Linked DNA regions of Homo sapiens: region 1 is reported to be linked to region 2. The links are microRNA targets in miRTarBase. Many come from high-throughput screens and were not tested one by one. Region 2 holds a microRNA gene; the other region holds the end of a gene's coding sequence.

Region 1 (11,179 bases), not on the chromosome of region 2:
AATCACAAAGGATTTGAGGGGAAAATCATAATTCCATTCAGTTTTTTGCCAGGTCCATTTAAAATTTGACTCTGCCCAGAGTTCTTCCCCTCATGGGTGTCTGGACCGATAATGACCAAGATTCCATCCACTCATCCCCTTCCTACCGTGGGGAAATCTCCCTTGAAGACCTTATCTTTCTGTGGAAAAGACTAAAGGACACTAGGAGCATCTGGAATACTTTGTGTCCTTTGATAGGAACACTCCACCGTCCACATTTTCAATCAGCACTTTCTTTCAGAACAGCATATGCCTTTTTTCCGTGTAAGGCTGTAATTCCTGCAGCAGGGCATCCGTGACAGCCACAGCTGGGGAACAGGCACAGTCCAGCCAGGCCCCTTGCTTTCCATTCATTGCTGTTGCTTGGGCCCCACCTTCCCTGGCTTAGAGGATCATTTGCTGTCCTTTCATCTTTGGGGGGTTGGACAGAACTTCCTGGCAGCTGTGGGAGGAGTTTCTCCTCCCTGGACATCAGTGTGTGAGAGAGTGGAGGTTCCTGGGGCCTCTCCTGCTCTGTGATCCTCAAAGGGCTGAGGTATACTACTCTTGCCAGCAGTTATACAGATGCACACAGTTCACTGGAGTCAGTATCTTCTAAGGCCACAAAGGCCAGACAGGATAGCCTAGGTTAGTAGCTTCTAGGGCCATTGTGGGAGGAAGCTGGGGCCGGGGGTGCAGGGTGGAGGTTATTGGCAAATCCATAAACTTTGACCAAATGTTGGATTCTTGGGCTGTTTGGATAAGGAGAAAGGCCTTCAAGACCCTTCTGCCATTCAGAATTACCAACATGAAAAGAAAGGCTGAGACCACCATTTCCAAGCCCTTAGGAATGGATATAAAGCAAGTTGCTGGCTCCTGCAGTTTATGTTAGCGGTGGGCCTGTGAGTGCCCCATGAACACATGGAGCGGCTTCAGCACCAGCCGTACTTTAAAGATGGATTTTAATTTGTACTCTCTTTTTCGTAGCCACATTGGCATTTATTTATTCCCATATTTATGTCGCCAGCAAATTTATATTCCCTATGCAAGACTCCCAAGTTTTTTAGTAAAGTATTACATGTTTGGGCTGAGTATGGTGGCTCACGCCTGTAATCCCAGCACTTTGGGAGGCCAAGGTGGGTGGATGGATGGAGGTCAGGAGTTCAAGACCAGCCTGGCCAACATGGTGAAACCCTGTCTCTAGCCCCAAAAATTAATTAGCCAGGTGTGGTGGCACAAGCCTGTAGTCCCAGCTACTTGGGAGGCTGAGGCATGAGAATCACTTGAGCTCGGGAGGTGGAGGTTGCAGTGAGCCAAGATTGTGCCACTGCACTCCAGCCTTTGTGACAGAGTGAGACTATCTCAAAAAATAAAAAAAGAATTACATATTTGAAGTCATCTTCCTTCAGATTTTCTTTGGTTTCTGTGATAGAAAAAGAACACGAAAGCTATAAATCACATAATACTAACTTTTCAGTCTTTGTAAGATACTGGTTGCTTCTCACCGTAAGAATAGATTTTGTGATTCACATTGATATGAAGCCTACTCCTTTCAGTTTTTCCTATGAGTTCCTTATAAAGCCTAAGTAAAATAGATTTGTTTTCTTGTACATCAGCTCATTTTTTATTTAATATGATGACAAGTTACTTATCCAGAGATCAGTTACCTGGAAACTTCAAGTATCTAGAACATAGCCAGAAACCCAGAAAGGAAGCAACAAAAGCAATTAAAGCAAAGCCACAGAGCCGCTATTTGCGCCTTTTCTTCCCTTAGCCCTCACTCACTCACATCTCTGCAGATACAGGCCTGATACGTGCTTTGCACACTGATGCTCGTTTCTCACTGCACTCTCCTGAGAGAGAGGCACTGTTCCATTATACAGATGATGGAACCGAGACACAGAGGAGTTCAGTAACGTGCTCAAGATTACAGAGCTCACAAGAAGTAGGGAGCCAGGATTGGAACCCAGGCAGGCTGGCACCAGGGACCAAGCTCTCCACAGCTCTGCCACCGCCCACAAGGACCGCAGCTTGGCACCTGCCCCACTGCCGGCTCTGCACACTCAGCCTTGGCCAGGTTGTTGGCATGTTGACAACCTGAAGAAGTGACTGCTGGTTTTAGGAAAGAGTAAGCCGTGACAGTTTAAAAGTTATGAGTTTATATGATATAACCAACTCTCCAGAAATTAGTAAACCCTTGAAGTAAACAGATGTTTTTTTAGCATTAATTGGTATAATTAGTGATGGTGAGGGGTCAGTAAGAAAACACTGGATTATCTTCAGGAGACCTAAGAAGGAGCAGAAAAATACTCACTTGTGTAAACCTTTCTGAATTAGCTGTGATAAAACGATAACTGTGGCATGTGCAGGGTACACAAATGGAAAACTTTGGACACAAAACCCTTTATCTTGGAAAGTCCCGCTAAATAAAATTTAAAAATAGTTGTTTTAAATTAAGCTAAGGTTTGTGGTTAGTTAACAGGAATAATCAATAACTTTTGACCATTTTCTTGAATAGTTTCTTTTTAGTGAGCTAACACAAATGCACGCTTAAAGGGGAGGCTTTGAGAGTCTCCCACTGGGGCCAAGGGGGCATCTTGAACATCCTCTGCAGAGAGAAGCGTCAGGCCTCCCGTAGACTTCATCTCTCAGGGAAAGGGAGGAAGGCATTCAGGTGGCAGAGAGAAGGCCCTTCGTAGCTTTTAGGTTGTAATTCAGTTCAGTTCTTCGGTCTTTTGAGTGCCTACTAATACTCTATACTTGATGATTATAAAATAAATTGTTTTTTTAAACTTTGATTTTTCTTTAAGTTTTAATAACAAGGTAATTGTTTAAATGTCTTCTCAGCTTCTCGGTGAACTACTACTAGATAGACACAACTTCACAATTATGACAAAATACATCAGTAAACCTGAGAACCTCAAATTAATGATGAACCTGCTGCGAGACAAAAGTCGCAACATCCAGTTTGAGGCCTTTCACGTTTTTAAGGTAGAGTACTAGAAGCATCAGTGATACTGTCCACTGGAATTGTTCGTCGTCTTTCATTCGCAAATAACGGAAATTATTAGCCTCACTCTGGTAATCCAGGTGACTTAATTAAATTCAGTCACTTTTCATATTTGTGTGCTATGACTTTTAAACAGAAAGGTAGACCTGGAAACGGGTTACTGTTTGGATCTGGGAACGAGAAGGTTTGTTCATAGAAGAGTGTCATTTATCTTTGGCCTAGAAGATTAGTAACTGCAAAACAAAAGCATTTCTTAATGCTTTCTGTGGAGGTTTCATTCTTAAAATCCCATCTGACCTCTTGTGCTGAGAAATAATTTCTGCCCATTTTATTCTAAAATCAAAGTCTGTATTTAATACTAAACACTGTGTTGCAGGGCTGGCAGAATGAGTTTATCAGTCGTATTTGTGTTAAAACATGTAATTATTATTTTTTTTTCCAAATTGTAAAATAACGCCTTCTAAAGCAAAACCTAATGACCCTGACTTCAGCGCCATCCCAGGAGAGCACAGCTCTGCTTTTCTGCACTGTGGCCGCAGCTCAGGTGTGGCTGCGTTTTGTCCTTTCTCTGTGCCTCATGTGCGTTTCTCTCCACGCAGGTGTTTGTAGCCAATCCTAACAAGACGCAGCCCATCCTAGACATCCTCCTCAAGAACCAGGCCAAACTCATAGAGTTCCTCAGCAAGTTTCAGAACGACAGGACGGAGGATGAGCAGTTTAACGACGAGAAGACCTATTTAGTTAAACAGATCAGGGATTTGAAGAGACCAGCTCAGCAAGAAGCTTAATCTCCAATAAACATCTATGTTAAATCCAAATTCAGCATTTGCTGTTAGCTATTCAGCATCAGGCACTCTTATTGATTCATGAGGAACATTACTGCTAATCTGCTGTTAAGTGAACGGTTTTTCATTTTACCCTTTTGTTTTTCAGTCCAGGTTGGAGATCGTAGCTGCTGCTGCTTGCACACTAGGGCACATGTGGGCTTTCTCTTGATCTTTGTGTCATTTCAGAATTCAAAGACTGTGCTACGGGAGTTCTGAACATGGCTGGGTTCATGAAGGCAAATGTATGGATGAGAGTGTGGTTTAGGAAAGAGGGCACTGATATCAGATTAGACCTATGTGTTTGCACCCATCTTTGTTGGCGATCTGAGTGCAGTGTGGCAAGTGCACACCTGGCATCCCTGCGTCAGATCGCGCACCTTCAGGTCGCGCACCTTCGCTGAAGGAAGATGACGCAGAGCTTTATCTGAAATCAGAGGGGAGCTATCCAAAATGGGAGTTTGGGGGCAGCTAAAGTTGACATGCGAATAAATTGATACTGAAACTTAGCAACTTCTTAAAAGTGTAAAGAAGCCTCATAAGATCATAAGGAAAATGTATATATGCTTTTCACAGCTTTCTAGAATTTTTTGACATTTGATTTTCTTGAGACTTGTAAACCTGGATATGTTGAAGGGTATTTGTTAATTTTACTTTTCAAAGATACTTTAAAACAGTAGAGCTAGCAATGACACCTTGCATTTCATTTCAACACTGCTTCAAGGTTTCTTTTGTATATAATTCTTAGAATGCTCATTTCTTTTAAATGGTTTAATTTGTACAGCAGAGGAATGTTATTGTAGTAGTATGTAACTATTACCTAATACTGAGTTTTTGCAAAAAACAATGAATGCTCATATGTAATTGAAATACTTCAGATCACATGAAAATGCTGATTTAACATTTAAGTATCACAGCATTAAAAGAAAAAGAAAGTAAACCAGTCCTTTGTATTCAGTTACCTAATGGGGTGCCATCAATAAGCTGCGATACAGCCCTGGAGCTCAGTCAGCCACACCTTCCTGCATCCTATTGGCCTTATTCATTTTAAATGAGTTAATGAATCTGCCAGATCTGTGAATGATAGAGATTATGCTAAATTAATGCTGATTCTTTGTGTGTGTGGGAAATCTCTGTAGAGCACCTTTTCTTTCTTAGACTAAGTAACCCAGTACAATAGTTGTGAACTGAATAATTAAAACTTTGGCTTCTCTTAGGAAAAGACGACTTCCTAGTCATAGGTGTCCTATGGGGAAATTTATTTTTTTTAATGTCCTGTTCCTTAATGCTGCAAATTATCAGTATTTATAAAGTAACTGATTTTGCACCACTTTTTTGTTACTGTGACCACGGCAGAACAATGTCTTCTAGACTATATCTATGTAAAGTTATTAGAATGGTATCTGTTCATTTTAGTGATATGAAGATCACAACTAACAACTGACAAATCAGAGTTTGCCAGTTCAAATTCAGCATGGCTGCAGCTGATTAAGAAATTGATATGATTATTCTTTGCTAGCCTCTCTTACTAATGGAATTATATACTGGCCAGTAAAATGGGCCTCCCAATTGCTGTTTCAGCAGGTTTTAAACCTTCAGGAACACCAGTTAGGAAAATAGCTCCAGAAAATATAGATATATTTTATTTTTATTAAAATGGCAGTCTACATCATAATTGGCATTTCTCAAGACTGTCTTTACCAGAATCTGTGTGAAATAAGGCAATCTAGTCTCCTTGAAAAAAAAATCTCTTGGATGTTTAGGAAGGAAGACTTGGCCGTGATGTGGTGTCCTGGCTTTGTGGTGTAGTGCTGTGTGTATGGAGTTAGTGTAAAAACATGGATTACACCAAGTGGAAGAAACGTCTTCTTGCCAAGCTCATTCTTAGAACTTACACATCTAGAACAGCTTCCACTTTGGCAGTGAGGTCGTAGCCTTTTAGGTGGAAGAAGTGAGGGTGCAGCGTGTCAGACACAACATTCATGTTACTCTTACATTGGAATCTGAAGGTAGTTCAGACTTCGTGGGTTTTGTTTTTAAGCAAAACAATGTGAAAACATTTAAGTTTGAAATGTTGCATTTGAAGTTATGATCATTTAATATATTCATATTACCAAGACTATTATACTGGAAGTGGTTTTTGTGTTATAAAGGTTTAATTTTACATAAGGCAGTTACTTAATGTGATTTTTAACCCTTAAAAAAGTGGAGATGTATACATTTGTTAACAATGCCATGAAAGCATTTTCTTTCTCCTAAGGAAAAGTGAATTTCTTATCAGAATATCTGGCTGGCCCTGTAATTTAAATTAAAATAAAATTTTGGAGAAACAGCATTGTCTGTCTTTATGATGTGTTATAGACAGTTGCATTTGTGTTACTGTGAACAGCTTCATCAGGAGACACACAAGCCCGAATTTTATCACCAACTGAAAGTGGAGGGACAGTTAACACCCATTCCTGTCTGCCTTTTTCCCTGTTCAGGGGCTTCACTTCCCCCCCACCGCCCCCGTGCTCATGTTTTCCTTACCCTTCCTGAGTAAAATCACACCTTTTAATGGTACCATTTCTTAGACCCTAACGTTTGAGGAGTAGATCCTCTCTTGCGCTGTTAGCAACACCGCGAGGCTAAACTAGAACACTCGGCCCGGAGTATTCACAGGTTACTGATGTGAAATGATCATGAAGGCGAGGGGACCGTGGAAGCAGGCACAAGAACTCTGGCACCGTAAAGAATGTCCCTCGTCTGCCTTCCAGGGTGCCTCGTAATCCTTAGTTCACAGCCCTGCCCTCGACTTTAACCCCTGTCAGTAAATGAAATCTTATTCTCTGGAGTGAAGGCAAGGGACATGCTCTTGCCAAAAACACTTCATCCGAATAACAATGTCCTATTTGTTATTTCTGTCAAGTAGTTCAGTCTACTTGTACGTTGTAGTTCCCCAAAGGTGACAAGGGCCCATTAAGTCATAACTTGTGACTTGGCCACTTATAAGGATCACCAGGCTGAGGACTGGATTCACGCTTCAGCTCAAATTCCACTTCCTACCACAATCCCCCATCAAATGCCCTCCTCCCCTTGCCAAAGAAGCTCCAGAACGTTGCACTTCAGGCAGCTCAGGAGTAGTGCAGTTCTCACCCAGCCTTCCTAGTTAGGCTCCAACAAGGTCCTGATCGGGAAGTGCTCTGAGGCTGCAGTCAGTGCCCAATACCTTGTTCATGCTGGAGGTTAGAGCCACTCACGGTCATGAGAAAGCCCACCTGCCAACGTGCCAAAGTTGTCCTTTAGGGGAAGAGCGGGCAGCCCAGCACACACCGCCCTTCAGGTACTCCCGGATGTGTCAGGAATCTTCTCCCTGGCCATGGCTGTGTCCTCACTGACCATCTGGTTTCCAGAAGACATGAAGGACAGGGTAAGATTCTCCCCAGTCAGCAATCTCAGTACTGCAGAAAGACCCACTGGAGCTTTTCTCTACGAATACCATCCGCTTTCACCCGTTGACAGTCTGCTTGCGGTCAACCAGCACACCTCCGCCACCGAGCACTTTAGACCCAAGAAGTGCCTAATAAGGATCTTAAGCTTTCGAACCTCCAGGAATCCTGCCACCAGCATTCACGCTGACTGAAGAGGATGGTGGTGGTTGCACAAGGCTGTGTCACTGCACAGCTATATGAGGCCTTCATGTTGTGTGTGCCCTTACAGTGTCCTCTAAAACCTTGCTCATGTCTGAGAACTGGCAGCCAAGTGTCCGTCCCCACTGTGGCTGGAAGGTGGGGTAGGTTCCACCTGAGGGCACGTCCGCCGGGAGCTAAATCTCCAAGGACCGTGACCCCCTGGTTTCTTTTCTTTTTTTATTTTTTTATTTTTTTTTTTTGAGACGGAATCTTGCTCTGTCGCCCAGGCTGGAGTGCAGTGGCGCGATCTCGGCTCACTGCAAGCTCCACCTCGGGTTCACACCATTCTCCTACCTCAGCCCCCTGAGTAGCTGGGACTACAGGTGCCTGCTAATTTTTTGTATTTTTTAATAGAGACAGGGTTTCACCGTGTTAGCCAGGCTGGTCTCGATCTCCTGACCTCGTGATCTGCCCGCCTCGGCCTCCCAAAGTGCTGGGATTACAGGCATGAGCCACCACCCCCAGCCAGACCCCCTGGTTTCTATGCAGAAGATTTCATCCTTTGCAATTTGTTAAATTTTTATTATTTTTTCTAGGTAGCACTTCAGTAGTAAGACAGACCCCAGAGATTTCTGGAAAAGAGTGACATTTTTTCAACATTCTGCACAAGATTGACAGGTTTTACAGATGAGCTTTAGCTCACAAGAGCCCCTTTCCCTTGGTAATAATTTATTATCACCTAAATATTGGTGTTCCGTGGAAACAGCATGGTCTAGCACTAAGTTTTGGTAGCTGAGTCTTGTTTCCTTGAGATGCAACTGGCGTGCAAAGGCAGGAAGAGCCGCAGGCCAGCTGGGGAGGCTTCTGCCCAGAGGAAGTTTCCAGGCAAGACTGCACCCCTGATGGCTCCCTCTTTCTTCCCCGTGAACTGCAGCATGAAGACCTCAAGACCCCTCTAGCCCAAACCAATCCCAGGGAGCAAATACCCCTCCCCAGAAACACTGCTCACACACATTCATGGGGACCTTTGCATATATCCCATCATCTTAAAGTCCTCACCTGTGTGGAGAAAAAGGAGGTGAGGGTCCCTCTGCACCAAGTCCCCTCCTAACCCAAGGGGCACCTTTTCACGCTTAGCTGAATCTCTGTGTGGTCCTGGGCTCTCCCTAAGCCATTGAGGACCTGCTGGTTTCTGGGAACTCACTTCTTTGAAGATCCGGGGCGTGAGGTAGGGTTGGGTGCCAACCTGTGTCATCCAAACACATTAAGAGGGCCCTGTCAGTGCCCCACATCGTCCTTGACACCCGCTTCTGCTTATTGTGAATACCTGTGACTCTGCCTCGGCACTCTCCTCTGGCCCCAAATGCAGGAATGACTGTCCCCAGAAGCAGCCCTCAGCTGCCAGTGTCCTTGGCCCTCAGCTGGGACAGCTGCACTCCTGCCTTCCAGAGCCCGCAGCAGGGCTGAGCTCCGATGCCCACTGCATTAACCAGCTTGCTAGGAACCTTTTGTCAGATTATTTCCATCCCCGGCTCACAACCCATTCTGTAGTATCTCCTGGGATCAAGTCCCAAATAAATAACCAACACTGGAACCCTTATCTGAGGGTGTGCTTCTGGGGTAACCCAAACTAAGACATGCTCATTTTGTTTCTTCTAACTCACAGCCATGCCCGTGATCAGCCAGATGAGAGGGCTCTCTCCTGAAAGAGGAGGCCAGTGAGACAGCAAACAGGGCTGCCTGCCCTTCTGGAAGCATCCTTCCTGTCTCTTTTGCCTCAATATTTAAGAGAGGCTGGCCCCCGAGTATGCATCAAAGCCTGACACCAGGTAGGGAGAAGCCCAGCTCAGCAGAGCCGCTCTTGGCCACAGCTCCTACTGCCTAAAGAAGCTGTTCTGAGACCCCCGACACAGGCTTGCTGTCCCCCAGTCAGCCAGTGCCCCCTGACTCTTATCCTTTCAAAAGCAGCTGGATAGGACACACTATCTGCTCCCAAATAGTTCTTCATGGTCATCAAACATGCTAGCAAAACTGGAAAACCCCAGATTTTCTCATGTTCTGCCCCCTTTAAAAAAAAAGACTTGAAAGGTATAGTCTAGCCCAACAAAATGATTGCACAATTGGGAATTGGAGCCAGAATTTTAGGAAACGTCCAGGTTGAGAAAAGAATTTGGATGGGGACAGTGGAGAGAGGGCTAGGGTCTATGTGGAGGCAGAGCCCGCCCAATGGTGCTAAGGCAGCTCAAAGACGCCTGAAGGGGCCTCTCTGCCTTGCGGGGTCCCCATGAGCTTTCCCTGCAGTCAACTTGCTTTCATTTTTTAAAAATGTCCACTGGGTGGCAGTAGAGCTCCTTGTTTTCAGCAGGCTCTGAGCTGGAGGGAATGGAGCGTTCTAGGGCAAATCTGGGCAACAACAGAGAACCTGGGATGTCGTGGACCCAAATGCCCTGAGCGTCCTGGACGCCTTTTTGAGCAAAAAGGCAGGGACAGTCTAAGGGGGTTATGAAAAGAATGACAGAGGCCGGGCGCGGTGGTTCAAGCCTGTAATCCCAGCACTTTGGGAGGGAGAGGCGGGCGTATCACCTGAGGTCGGGAGTTCAAGACCAGCCTGACCAACATGGAGAAACCCTGTCTCTACTAAAAATACAAAAAATTAGCCGGGCGTGGTGGCGCAAGCCTGTAATCCCAGCTACTCAGGATGCTGAGGCAAGAGAAACGCTTGAACCCAGGAGGCGGAGGTTGTGGTGAGCCAAGATGGTGCCATTGCACTCCAGCCTGGGTAACAAGAGCAAAACTCCATCTCAAAAAAAAAAAAAAAGAAAAGAAAAGAGTGACAGAGGGCGGGACAGATGCACGAGAGTAACATGTGAAAGGTAGAGTTTAGGTGGTAGGTATATGGTTGTCTTGGTTGCTAAGAAACTATTTTTTGGAAGAGTTCTAGATTTACAGAAAACGTTGCAAAGATGACACAGAGAGATCCCATATACTCTGCACCCCATCTTCCCTGTTATTAACATCTCACATCACTGTGTTATATTTGTTAAAATTAAGGAACCAATATGGATACACTATTATTAGGTAAAGTCCATACTTTGTTCTGAGTTCCTTGTTTTCCATGATGTCTCTTTCCTGTTCCCAGATCCCATCCAGGATCCTATGTTCTATTTAGTTGAGAGTTTCTCAGACTTTGGTTTTTGCTGACAGTTTCAAAAAGTACTCATCAGGTATTTGTGGAATCTCCCTCGACTGGGATTTGTCTGCCTTTTTTCTCATGATTAGGATGAGATTATGGGGTTTGGGAGGAAGACCATACAGATTAAGTGCTTTTTTTTCTTTTTCTTTCTTTTTTTTTCTTTTTTTCTTTTTTTTTTTTTTTTTTTTGAGATGGGGCCTCACTCTGTCACCCAAGCTGGAATGCAGTGGTGCGATCTCAGCTCACTGCGACCTCCACCTCCCAGGCTCAAGCAATCCTCCCACCTCAGCCTCTCGAGTAGCTAGGACCACAGACATGTGCCACCACGCCAGACTGATTTGTACTTTTGGTAGAGACAGGGTTTCGCCATGTTGCCCAGACTGGTCTCAAACTCCTGAGCTCAAGCAATCCACCCGCCTCGGTTTCCCAAAGTGCTGTACAGGCGTGAGCCACCACGCCCAGCCTAAAGTGCTGTTTTCATCACGTCATATCAAGGGTACACACTATGGACATGACTGCTCCC
Region 2 (10,489 bases):
AACTCCCAGAAAGCTCAAATTGACATTTGTGTGTTTTATATTTTTACATCATTGTCGTTGTCATCATCCTAGTGACCACCATTTATTGAGCGCTTACTATATGTCAGGTGAAGCTGCAAGCCTTAATTATCTGCAGCTATCTTAAGTTATCCTACAAAGAGCATACTATTATTATCCCCAATTTGGGGGATAATATATGAAGAAACTGAGGTCAGAGAAGTTAAGATACTTGCTCAAGGTCACATAGCTAGTAAGTGGTAGAGCACTGATTTAAACCATAGGCAGTTAAAACTCCAAAGCCTAGAGCTCTTAACCACTATTGGGTATTTCTTCTCTCTTCAAGTGGCATCTCACTAGAAGTGGTTTCCTAAGTCAGTATTGCAACACTTGCTAAGGCTGGATGGGATCCCTCGTCACCTGCCCCACAAGTAGAGAGGAAAAAACACTCTGCAAGAAGAACCTCAGGGCCTCGACTAGATCAAGGACCTGGAGCTCAGAGGGAAGACAAATGGCAGGGTCTGCATTACATGTGTCCCCTTTTCATAATAACAAGGGTTACTACTCATTGAGCATTTCTGAACACTTTACAGACATTGCCTCAACTATTCTTCACTAAAAGCCTTCAAAGCATATGCTACTATCGTCCCCATTTCCTAGATAGAAAAAGAAGGCCAAAAGAAATTCTCTGCCAAGCTCCCAGGGCTTTGCCCAAGCAGAACCCCATCCTAGAATTCACAGCCCTCTCAGTCACTGAAGCAAACAATTAGGGCAAATGTTTGTTTTCTTACCTAAAACACCAAACAGTCATCACAGGCCTTTGGGGACAGTTAATCAATGGCTTTATCCCACCATTTGTGAAAGTCTCTCAGGTCTCGTCTCTGGTCTCCTACTCCAGATCTGGGTAGCAATTCGGTCTCTATCCTGAGGAAAGAGCAGGGTGGGAGCCCAAGGGTCCAGATGCCACCAAGAGCCTGTCAACCCTGTGCCCAGGCCAGCTGGGTGACCTCAGGCCAGGCCCCTCCTCTCTGAGCTCTGTGAACCCAGCTGCTGACCCCTTGGCTCCCTCTCCCTCACTGGGTAGTCCTGAGCATCTCATGAGAGAACTCGTGGTCAGCTGCAAGGAGGACCTTTGGGATTTAGGAATGACAAGAGTAGGAAGAAAATGCAGTCTGTCCAGGGGTGGTGGTAGACCTTGCCCCAGGGTCCCACGGCCATCCAAAGCCCAGCCACTCAGGGCAATGGTGTCTCTCAGAGGACTACCCACCCTGGCCCTCCCCAAGAGCTAAGGCCCACCGCACCTCGCAAGACCTGACACTGGAAATGAACTTGCCAGGGAGTCAGGGGCCTGGGCTTCCTCCAGCCAAGCAGCTGGACCTCAGCTTCCTCTCTTCTGGAAATGGCAAGGTGTACCTGTATCTCCAAGGGCCCCCTGCCCCAAGCCTGGAAGGAGAGGGAGCTGCTCACAGTCAAGGTTCAAATCCCAGGTAAGCCGCTCACTAGCTTCAAGACCCTGAGCAACTGACCTAACCTCCCTGCACCTCAGTTTCATCACCTACAAAATGGGGAAAGCCAGTCTCACAGTTATTGGGAGAAATCCATGCAATAGCACTCAGAAGTCTCTTCACAGATACACAACGAAATAGTCACAGATGAAATGACGTCTTGTACATGGAGATGGAATAAGAGTGACTGCAAGTCTTTAACAGTGGACGCTGGGTGATGGAGGGATGGGGATTCACCATACTGTTCTCTCTACTGTCTACTTCTGTATGAGTTGACATTTTCCATAGTCAAATGTTTAAAATACAAAGTTCTTTCAGAGAACCTGACATTGAAACCTATAAAACGCTCTTCTAGGCAACCACACTGCTAGTCCAGGATAAAAATAATTTCTTGTCCTCCCAGAGCTTTCAATCCAGTTGTAGGAATAAAAGCACACTCAGATACCATGGGATAGTAAGTGGCACAAGCCACGTGGGTGGTGGAAGCAGAAGAAGTTAGCTTCAAAGGCTTTCTAGAGGCTGGACGCGGTGGTTCATGCCTGCAATCCCAGCATTTTGGGAGGCCGAGGCGAGCGGATCACGAGGTCAGGAGTTCAAGACCAGCCTGGCCAATATGGTGAAACCCCATCTCTACTAAAAATATAAAAATTAGCCAGGTGTGGTAGCACATGCCTGTAGTCTCAGCTACTTGGGAGGCTGAGGCAGAAGAATCGCTTGAACCCGGGAGGTTGCAGTGAGCCGAGATTGCACCACTGCACTCCAACCTGGGCGACAGAGTGAGACGCCATCTCAAAAAAAAAAAAATGCTTTCCAGAGAGGGCAGGCTTTCAAGAGGGGGCTTAAAGTTCAGGTAGGCTATGAATACATTAAAATGGCAGGGATGGTGGCGGGGAGAGGACATTCCAGTTCATTCCACCAGACTTGTATTCCATCCCTTCTCAGGAACACTCAGACTGAAGATATAAAACAAGAAGCAGTGTCTGCCCTGAAGAGGCTCATAGTCTAGCATATTCATTCACTCAATGAGGATTGATTAAATGTCTGTTATGTTCCAGGCACGGATCTATTCACTGTGGTGAAAACAAAAGGTGGGTGAAATGAACGAAAATCCTTGCCTTTGTGGAGCTTAACGTCCAGGAGTGATTTCCTAATCATTCAATGAGGACTGATTAAATGTCTGTTATATTCCAGGCACTGATCTATTCATTATGGTGAAAAACAAGGTGGATGAAATAAACGAAAATTCTTGCCTTTGTGGAGCTTAACGTCCAGGAGTGATGTCCTAACACTTAATATGATCTATAGATGAAGAGATATATCTATTATTTGGTGCTTATTCTGTGCCAGGCATGTGTTACATGCTTTAAATCCATGTTGTCATTCGATTTTCACTGACTCTTCACAACAATCTTTTTTTTGAGACAGAGTCTCACTCTGTCACCCAAGCTGGAGTGTAGTAGTGTGATCCTGGCTCACTGCAACCTTCACCTCCCCAGTTCAAGTGATTCTCCTGCCTCAGCCTCCCAAGTAGCTGGGAATACAGGCATGCGCCACCATGCCCGGCTAATTTTTGTATTTTTAGTAGAGACGCGGTTTCATCATGTTGGCCAGGCTGGTCTCGAACTCCTGACCTCAGGTGATCCACCCACCTCAGCCTCCCAAAGCGCTGGGATTACAGGCGTAAGCCACTGTGCCCGGCCTCTTCACAACAATCTTAATCATCATATCTTCTCACTTCAGGAAACAGAAGCTCAGAAAGGTTATGTGACCCGCCAAAGGCCTCGAAGCTGGCAAATCGCAGAACCAAGACTCAAACCCAGTAAGGGGATTCCAAGGTCAGTGCTCTGCTGGCCCTGCGTACTGCCACACAGAAGATGGAACAGCTGGCTTGGAGGTGAGGGAGAGGGCATCGCCAAAACAGTGGCTGGTGAGCAGGGGCTCGCAGGATGAATCATGGAAATGGAGAAGGAAGACACAGAAAAGGGCAGCCTGAGTCTAAGCCTCCAGGAGGAAAATTCAGGGTTTTCCTGGGGAGGTACAGGATCCCAAAGTAAAAGCAGACAGCTCAAGACAAAGTCAAGGGCCTAACTCTCCAACTTAAAAGTACCCGAAGGCCTTCGGAAATCAGGTTTAAGTTTAGGCTTTAATTTTAAAATACCGGAGAGCTAAGCTATCAAGCCATGAAAGTCATGGAGGAACCTTAAATTCCTATCAGCAAGTGAAAAAAAAGCCAATCTGAAAACACTACATACTGCGTGATTCCAACTATATGACATTCTGGAAAAGGCAAAACTGTACAAACGGTAAAAAGATCAGTGGTTGTCAGGAGTTGGGGGACAGAAGAAATGAAAAGGTAGAGCAGATTTCCAGGGCAGTGAGACTATTCTGTGTGATGTTACCATGGTAGATACCTGTCATTACAGATTTGTCCAAACCCACGGAGTGAACCCTAATGTAAACTACAGACTCTGGGGTGGCAATGATGTGTCAATGTAGGTTCATCAATTATAACAAATCTACAACTCTGGTGGGGAATATTAATAATGGGGGAGGCTATGCATGTTGGGGGCAAGGGTATATGGCAAATCTCTGTACCTTCCTTTCAATTTTGCTGTGAACCTGAAATTGTTCTAAAAAAATAAAGTCTTAAAAGAAAAAAAAATGTACTGAGGAGCCATGGGAGATGTGTGAGCAAGAGAGTGATGTCAGATATGCACTCTAAGAGGACTGATCTGCCATCTGGGCTAAGGGCAAATGGAAGAAGACAAAGTCGGGTGCAGCAAAGATCTCTTTGGTAGTAACTGCAGGAATCTAGTTACAAACAGACAAAAACCTAGATCAGAAGGGGAGAAGAACAGAAAGATCAATCCAATCGATTCTGCATCAGCTGAGTGTCAATGGGATGGATATGAGGCACTCCGACTACCTTGTAGGAGGACAGATAGAAACTGACCCTGATCATTTTCTTCCAAATGACTTTATTTGGGTACCCTTCACTCTCTAATAAGAATTATGCTTCTCTTTTTTACGCAAAAAAAAAAAAAGATTGCATGCATGAAAATTAGCTCCATACTTAATCCTGTCCTTCTAAAGTGCTTCAAAGAGAGAATTATTCCAACTTTCATGAGTAGCAGGTTAATGCTCATTTTAGATATACTGTATTATTTCACTCCCAATCGAGAGGGCCTATTATCCCCATTTCAAGGATTGAAAAACAGGCGTAGAGAAGCAGAGGGACTTGTTCTGCATTCTTTCTTTTTTGTTTTTTTGGAGATGGAGTCTCACTCTGTTGCCTAGGCTGGAGTGCAGTGGTGCAATCTCAGCTCACTGCAACCTCCGCCTCCTGGGTTCAAGCAATTCTCCGGGTTCAAGCAATTCTCTGGCCTCAGCCTCCTGAGTAGCTGGGATTACAGGCACACACCACCACGCCCGGCTAATTTTTGTATTTTTAGTAGAGACGGGGTTTCACCACGTTGGTCAGGCTGATCTCGAACTCCTGGCCTCGTGATCTGCCCGCCTTGGCCTCCCAAAGTGCTGGTATTACAGGCGTGAGCCGCCGCACCCGGCCTCTGCATTCTCTCTATACAATCTATGTGCCTTCATTTGCTCAAGGTGCTAGAAAAACACTGATGAACAAAAACTGAGAGTAGCCCCTGTCTTCAAGGAGCTTAGAGTCAAATAGTCTGGGAACACTGCCCACTAATGCTGGCTCTTCTACTTACTCAAAGGTAATTAGTCTTCCACAAGTCAGTGAGTTCTCTGAAACTGTAAGATCTGTACAGCTGTGCAACAGCACCTACATTTTGCACAATATCTATGAGAATGAAATGTAGTAGTGCAAACAGAAGGCTCAGAAAACTGCATGGGGTATAGGGGATACTCAGTAAACGTCACTGATGATGACGATGAAGGAGAAGGCAAGGATCAACACTGCAATATTCTTGTTAGGCATTTCCAAGCCTGAGCCCCCTTTGCAAGACTGCTTCTCACTCGAGCCAGTCTTTCTTCTATTATTCCAGAGGAAGAAGGAAGAGGGTGACTCACGTGGCATAGTGGAACTTCTGCCTGGCCTGCACGAGCTGCTAAGAGGAGGGCCCTAAGGTAAAGAGGAAATATGAGCCCGTGGGGCACAGCTGCTGGGCCATTGCCCTTCCTGGGTTTCACAGGCATCCTGATCATTAGCACCAGCCAGGGAATCCCAATGAAAGTGGAGCCCAGGTCTCTGGTGAACATGACCCCTTCTGGCTCAGGTGAAGAAGTTACTCTCCCTAAGTCTCACACAGATAAAGAATGGGCAAATGCACCCAGTGAAGGCTATGCTTCAATCTTCTCCCACACACTATACATTTGTCCAAATCTACAAACTGATTTGAAAAAGAAGTTGGCCCTGGCTTCAAGGGGTGTGTGGAGCCATTTTCCCAGTTCTCCATGTGGCAGGGGGCCCTTCTGGGTGCTCAGTCCCAGCTTTAGAACAACGAGGAGACAAGATACCAATTGCAAAATGGGCCAAGTTCAGAAACACAGAACCACAAGTCACCCATGATCATATGGGGAAGAAGTTTAGCATCACAAGTAATCAAATAAATGCACATTAAAACAATAAGGGTAACAGAATTTATTGACGAACAGACTGGTAAAAATGAAAAACAATGAAAATATCAACAGTTATCTGGGTATAGGAAACCAGGTGTTCCCAGACCATGCCAGTGCACAAATAAGTACAATCTTTCTAGAAGAGAATCCAGGAATGAGTTTGATGGAGTAATTTCACTTCTAGGAACTTAAAGGAAGAAACAAAGACATACATAAAAAGATATTCGTTTTAGCATTGCTTACAATAGCAAAATAAAAAAATTAAACAACGTAAATGAGTAACGATAAAGGATTAATTAAATACATCTCGGTTCAATCTTCAACAAAACATTATATAATCATTAAGATACTAAGTAGAATATTTACTGATGTGGAAAGATGTTCACAGCATATTGTTTGGAAGAGGAAAAAAAAAAACAAGTTACAGAACAGTGCAATTCCAAGTTACAAATCAGTATATTCAGGATAACTCCTTTTTTTTTTTTTTTTTTTTTTTTGAGAATGAGTTTCGCTCTTTTGTCCAGGCTAGAGTGAAGTGGCGCGATCTCGGCTCACTGCAACCTCCGCCTCCCGGGTTCAAGCGATTCTCCTGCCTCAGCCTCCCAAGTAGCTGGGATTACAGGTGTGTGTCACCACGCCCAGCTAATTTTTGTATTTTTAGTAGAGACAGGATTTCACCATGTTGGCCAGGCTGGTCCGGAACTCCTGACCTCAGGTGATTCACCCGCCTCGGCCTCCCAAAGTGCTAGGATTACAGGGGTGAGCCACCGTGCCCGGCGACTCCATTTTTTAAAAATAAGATGTGATCTATATGAACAGGAAATAAACAGTCTGGAATATACATGACAATTAAGTGGTTATCTTTGGGTCATGTTACATATTTCTCATTTTTTTCTTTATGCTTGGCAGTATTTTCTAACAATTCTATAATTAAATATTTTTAAATAAGTTGTTAGAACTGATGATTTCTAACATTCCCGCTGCCAACTCTGACATTTTGTGCATCTATGACTGATGCCCTAAGCAACTTCAAATAGCCCATATTTAGTGTGGACTTGCTGTGTGGCCTTTGGGGTCTAAAATTTTGCCCACAGCTGCAGCCCTCTGCATTCCTCTCTCCCACACTCGCTGCCCAGCTGTCTCCCCTGCTAGCCTGGGAGCTTCTGCTTGGCAGGACCCAGCTGCACCCCTGTCTGTAATCCATGTGCCTAGCCAAGAGCTAAGCAAAGGAACACAGCTCAGCATACTGACAGGTGCCTTGCAGGCACAATGATAAAAGGTACAACCCTAGTGCTAGAATCTTACTGGACACCAGACTCACACAAAGTGCTTGGTTGTATCACACAGATGCAGAAAACCAAAGGAGAGAAAGCAGGGCAAGCTGGGCTGGGAGAGCCTAGTAGAGGAGAAGGCCATGCAGGACGGGTGAGTGAGGGTACTCTGGGCCAGGGGCATAGCCTGAACAAAGGTGAAGCCACCCACAGTCCTTTGGGATCCATGCCTCAAAGCTTTCCAAGAAACTTTCGCAATCCTTGTTCTGCTAAATTTCCGTACTTTGGCCCCAATGGGTAAAAGTTAAGTCTCCTAAACAGAAGTCCTCCCTCTAATCTAACCCTGGATTAGCCACCAAAGACAACAACAATCTTTTGGGACAAAGACAATGAATTACCATTTAATCCACTTTCCCCAAAGCTCCCAAAGGGAGATGAAGGAGGGGAGGGTCAGGGAAAGTTTGGGGGAGGAGAGGGGGTTGCAGGAACAACCAGAACATCTCACATGCAAACACTGCTCACCCCCACCACCAGGCCATTGGATTCTCTTGCGGCACCACCAGCCCCATTTGACAGATGGAGGAAATGAGGCTCGGAGAGTTCAAATGGCTTGCTCCGGGGTCACCCAGCCAGAGAGTGGGGAAGGTGACTCCACTCAGGCCTTCTGACTCCAAGTCCAGTGCTATTTCTAGGTAACACACAGGACCTGGAGTCAGGAGCCCTGGGTGGCTCTGTCACCCTCTGGCTGCATGGTCCCATACAAGCCGCTCACTCCTCGCAGCCTCTTTCTCCAGCTGTAAAATAAGGAGGAGCACACTGGGCCCGCCCAGGTCCTCTTCCGGCTGGGCTCTCCGAGCCTTCTAGGGGCGGCTCAAAGCTCATCCTATCAATTACATTTCCCAAGTTGGGCCGGCAAAGATCACCAGAAGATCCTCGGCCTGTCATGTGGTTAAATAAAAAAAGCAAATGTCCCAGATTAACTTTCACTGCACTGCTCCTGCAAACACCTGAGTATTCAATTTTCTAGTTTCCTTAGTTGAAATATTTCTGCTAGCTAGGCTCGCTGGGCGGCTAAAGGGCAAAATAATTAATTATTGCTGAGCCAAACACTGAAGATCGAGTTAAAATCCGGGGTACAGTCCAAAGCGGACAGTTCTTGACATGGGTCCCTGAACGAGTCTCCGGCTATTTCAGGCCTCTCTCATCCGCTTTTCAGCCAAGAGATTCGGAGACGCCCCAGGGCAATTTCGAGATCTGGGGACAGAATCTTCCCAGGAGTGACTCTGCCCCTCCTCCCGCACTCAGTGCCCGCTAGCCCCAAGCTGTCGGCTCTGGGGGTACTGAGGCTGGGACCTGCCTTCGGCGCAGACACCGGCGCGGGGCGTGTGACGGAGCCCGGCGACGACGGCGGGAGCTCCACCGCAGTTTCGTCAGAGGTAAAGGTACGCGCCCGGCGCGCGCGGCGTGTGCACACACACACACACACACACACACACACACACCCGCGCGCGCAACCCGCTCATCACACATTCCCCTCGATCTCGAGAAGCGCAATCACACGCCACTAGCCCCTCCGGCCTCTGCCGCGAACCCACCCGAGCGCGCCCGCCACCGACCACGCGGCCCCGCGGCTCCCCTACGCAGCGGCGTCTGCAGCGGGCCAGGGGCGGCCTGCCTCCCGCGTGGCGGGCTTCCTCTCGGCGACACCCTGCCACGCCACGCCGTCCCAGCCGCCAGCCCGAAGTCGCTGCCCGGAGCTGAACGTCTCGGCTGCGGCGTCCCTTCCAAGTCGCGTTTCACCGCAAGGAGTCAGCTTGCAAGCCTCTCCCCGCCCACCCGGTCCCATGACAGCTGCTGCCGCCCAAAGACAGGCAGATTATAACAAGAAGCAAAGTTTCCCTCTCTCTCCTCCCACCTCCCTCCCCCAATCTCCGCCTTCCCCCTCCCTTCCACTGTTATGCAAAACGGGCCGGCACCGGCGCTCCCACTCCAGGTACCAAACCAGCCCCCGCGAGCCGCGCCCGGTTCCGCCCGGCCGCCCCTCTCCGTGCCCAGGCGTGTGCCAGCACCCGGGGCTCCTCCGAGGTTCCGCCGCATCCTCAGCTTCCCAATGACCCGCAGCCGGGCGCCCAGAGAAAAAGCCCTAACTCTGGAGCCAAACTTTATGCTTGCAACAGGCATTGGGTGGGGAAAATGGGGGAAGGGGTGGGGGCCGCGCACGCCTCGTGCTGACATTTTTGGTGGCTGCTTGTCCCAGCAGCACCCCTCTCCCAGTCTCCAAGCCACCAGCTTCCTCGCTCCCCCGCGCCCCGGCACACCAGAGCACCCTCTCCTGTCACGCGCGTGTCGCCAGTGGGGCTCCCGGGCTCAGCCAGTGCCTGGGACTCCGCCTCGCCTTCCCTTCCCCCTGCATCGTGGAGCGCGCACCGGGGCCGCGCACCGCAGGGGGACCCAGGCGCCCCCAGACAGTCCTTCCGCCCCCATCCAGCCTGGCTTTTCCCCCCAGGGGGCTCCGCCCGATAGCGAAACCAGGAAGACGCTGTCTCCGCCCGCATGTCCACGTGCCCCGCAGACCCTTATGCCTTTAGCCGGCAACTGGCAGGAAACTCCGCGCTGCGGGCGCGGGTAGAAAGCCGCGGGGGGCCAGCAACAGCACTCTGGGGACTACAGCCTGGAGGACTAGGGGACTCCGGAGACCCGGGCATGCACCCGTGCCGGGGCCACAAGTCCACGTGAAAGTACGGCAGCAAGTGCCGGGCGCTGACGGCGCGCCTCCAGCACCCAGCGCCAGCCTGAGGGTACCCCACACCGTGGCGCGCCTCCACCTCCCAAAGGAAGCGCGGTACCCCCCAGTTTTGCCCGCGGGGTGGCAGACTCCAAGCGGCCAAGGCTAGACCCTCCCCAGCGGCCGTAGCGCCCCCAGCGCTCCGGCACGCGCCGGGAGACCTCCGGCTCCCTGCCCCGGTAACGGAGCGCATCGCAGGGCGCCTGGAAGGGGGGCTCTGCAGCCTGGAACCCCCAGTTACCCCAGGGCTCCCACCGCTGCCTCCCGGCCTCCGCGGCTGCAGCTGCGGCCCCCGCAGCTCAGCACCCCTGGCCCCGGGCCCGCAGCCCCAGCCGGCC

The links. The annotated mature microRNA hsa-miR-378a-3p reads ACUGGACUUGGAGUCAGAAGGC and lies in region 2 at 8,026-8,047, opposite strand. An mRNA with a match to its seed (bases 2 to 7 or 8) in the 3' UTR can be bound and repressed. Matches are read on the target gene's strand: a 7mer-m8 pairs with bases 2 to 8, a 7mer-A1 pairs with bases 2 to 7 and ends in A, and an 8mer does both.
Region 1: miRTarBase lists CAB39 as a target of hsa-miR-378a-3p. Seed matches in the 3' UTR shown: 7mer-m8 at 3,960-3,966.

Annotation. Positions count from the first base shown.
Region 1 is chr2:230,814,889-230,826,067 of GRCh38, forward strand. It overlaps CAB39 (calcium binding protein 39), which reads left to right. Exons shown (of 9, transcript NM_016289.4): 8 at 2,866-3,009; 9 at 3,628-6,187. The coding sequence ends at 3,816. Among named protein-coding and RNA genes, the nearest start is that of ITM2C, 44 kb to the right of the region's middle. RefSeq lists an enhancer at 9,511-9,680.
Region 2 is chr5:149,730,425-149,740,913 of GRCh38, reverse strand. MIR378A (microRNA 378a) reads right to left here and starts at 8,089; the gene lies at 8,024-8,089. All of the region lies in intron 1 of PPARGC1B (PPARG coactivator 1 beta), which reads right to left. RefSeq lists silencers at 8,937-9,166, 9,197-9,286, 9,307-9,356, 9,367-9,466, 10,267-10,489 and enhancers at 9,937-9,986, 9,997-10,116, 10,355-10,489.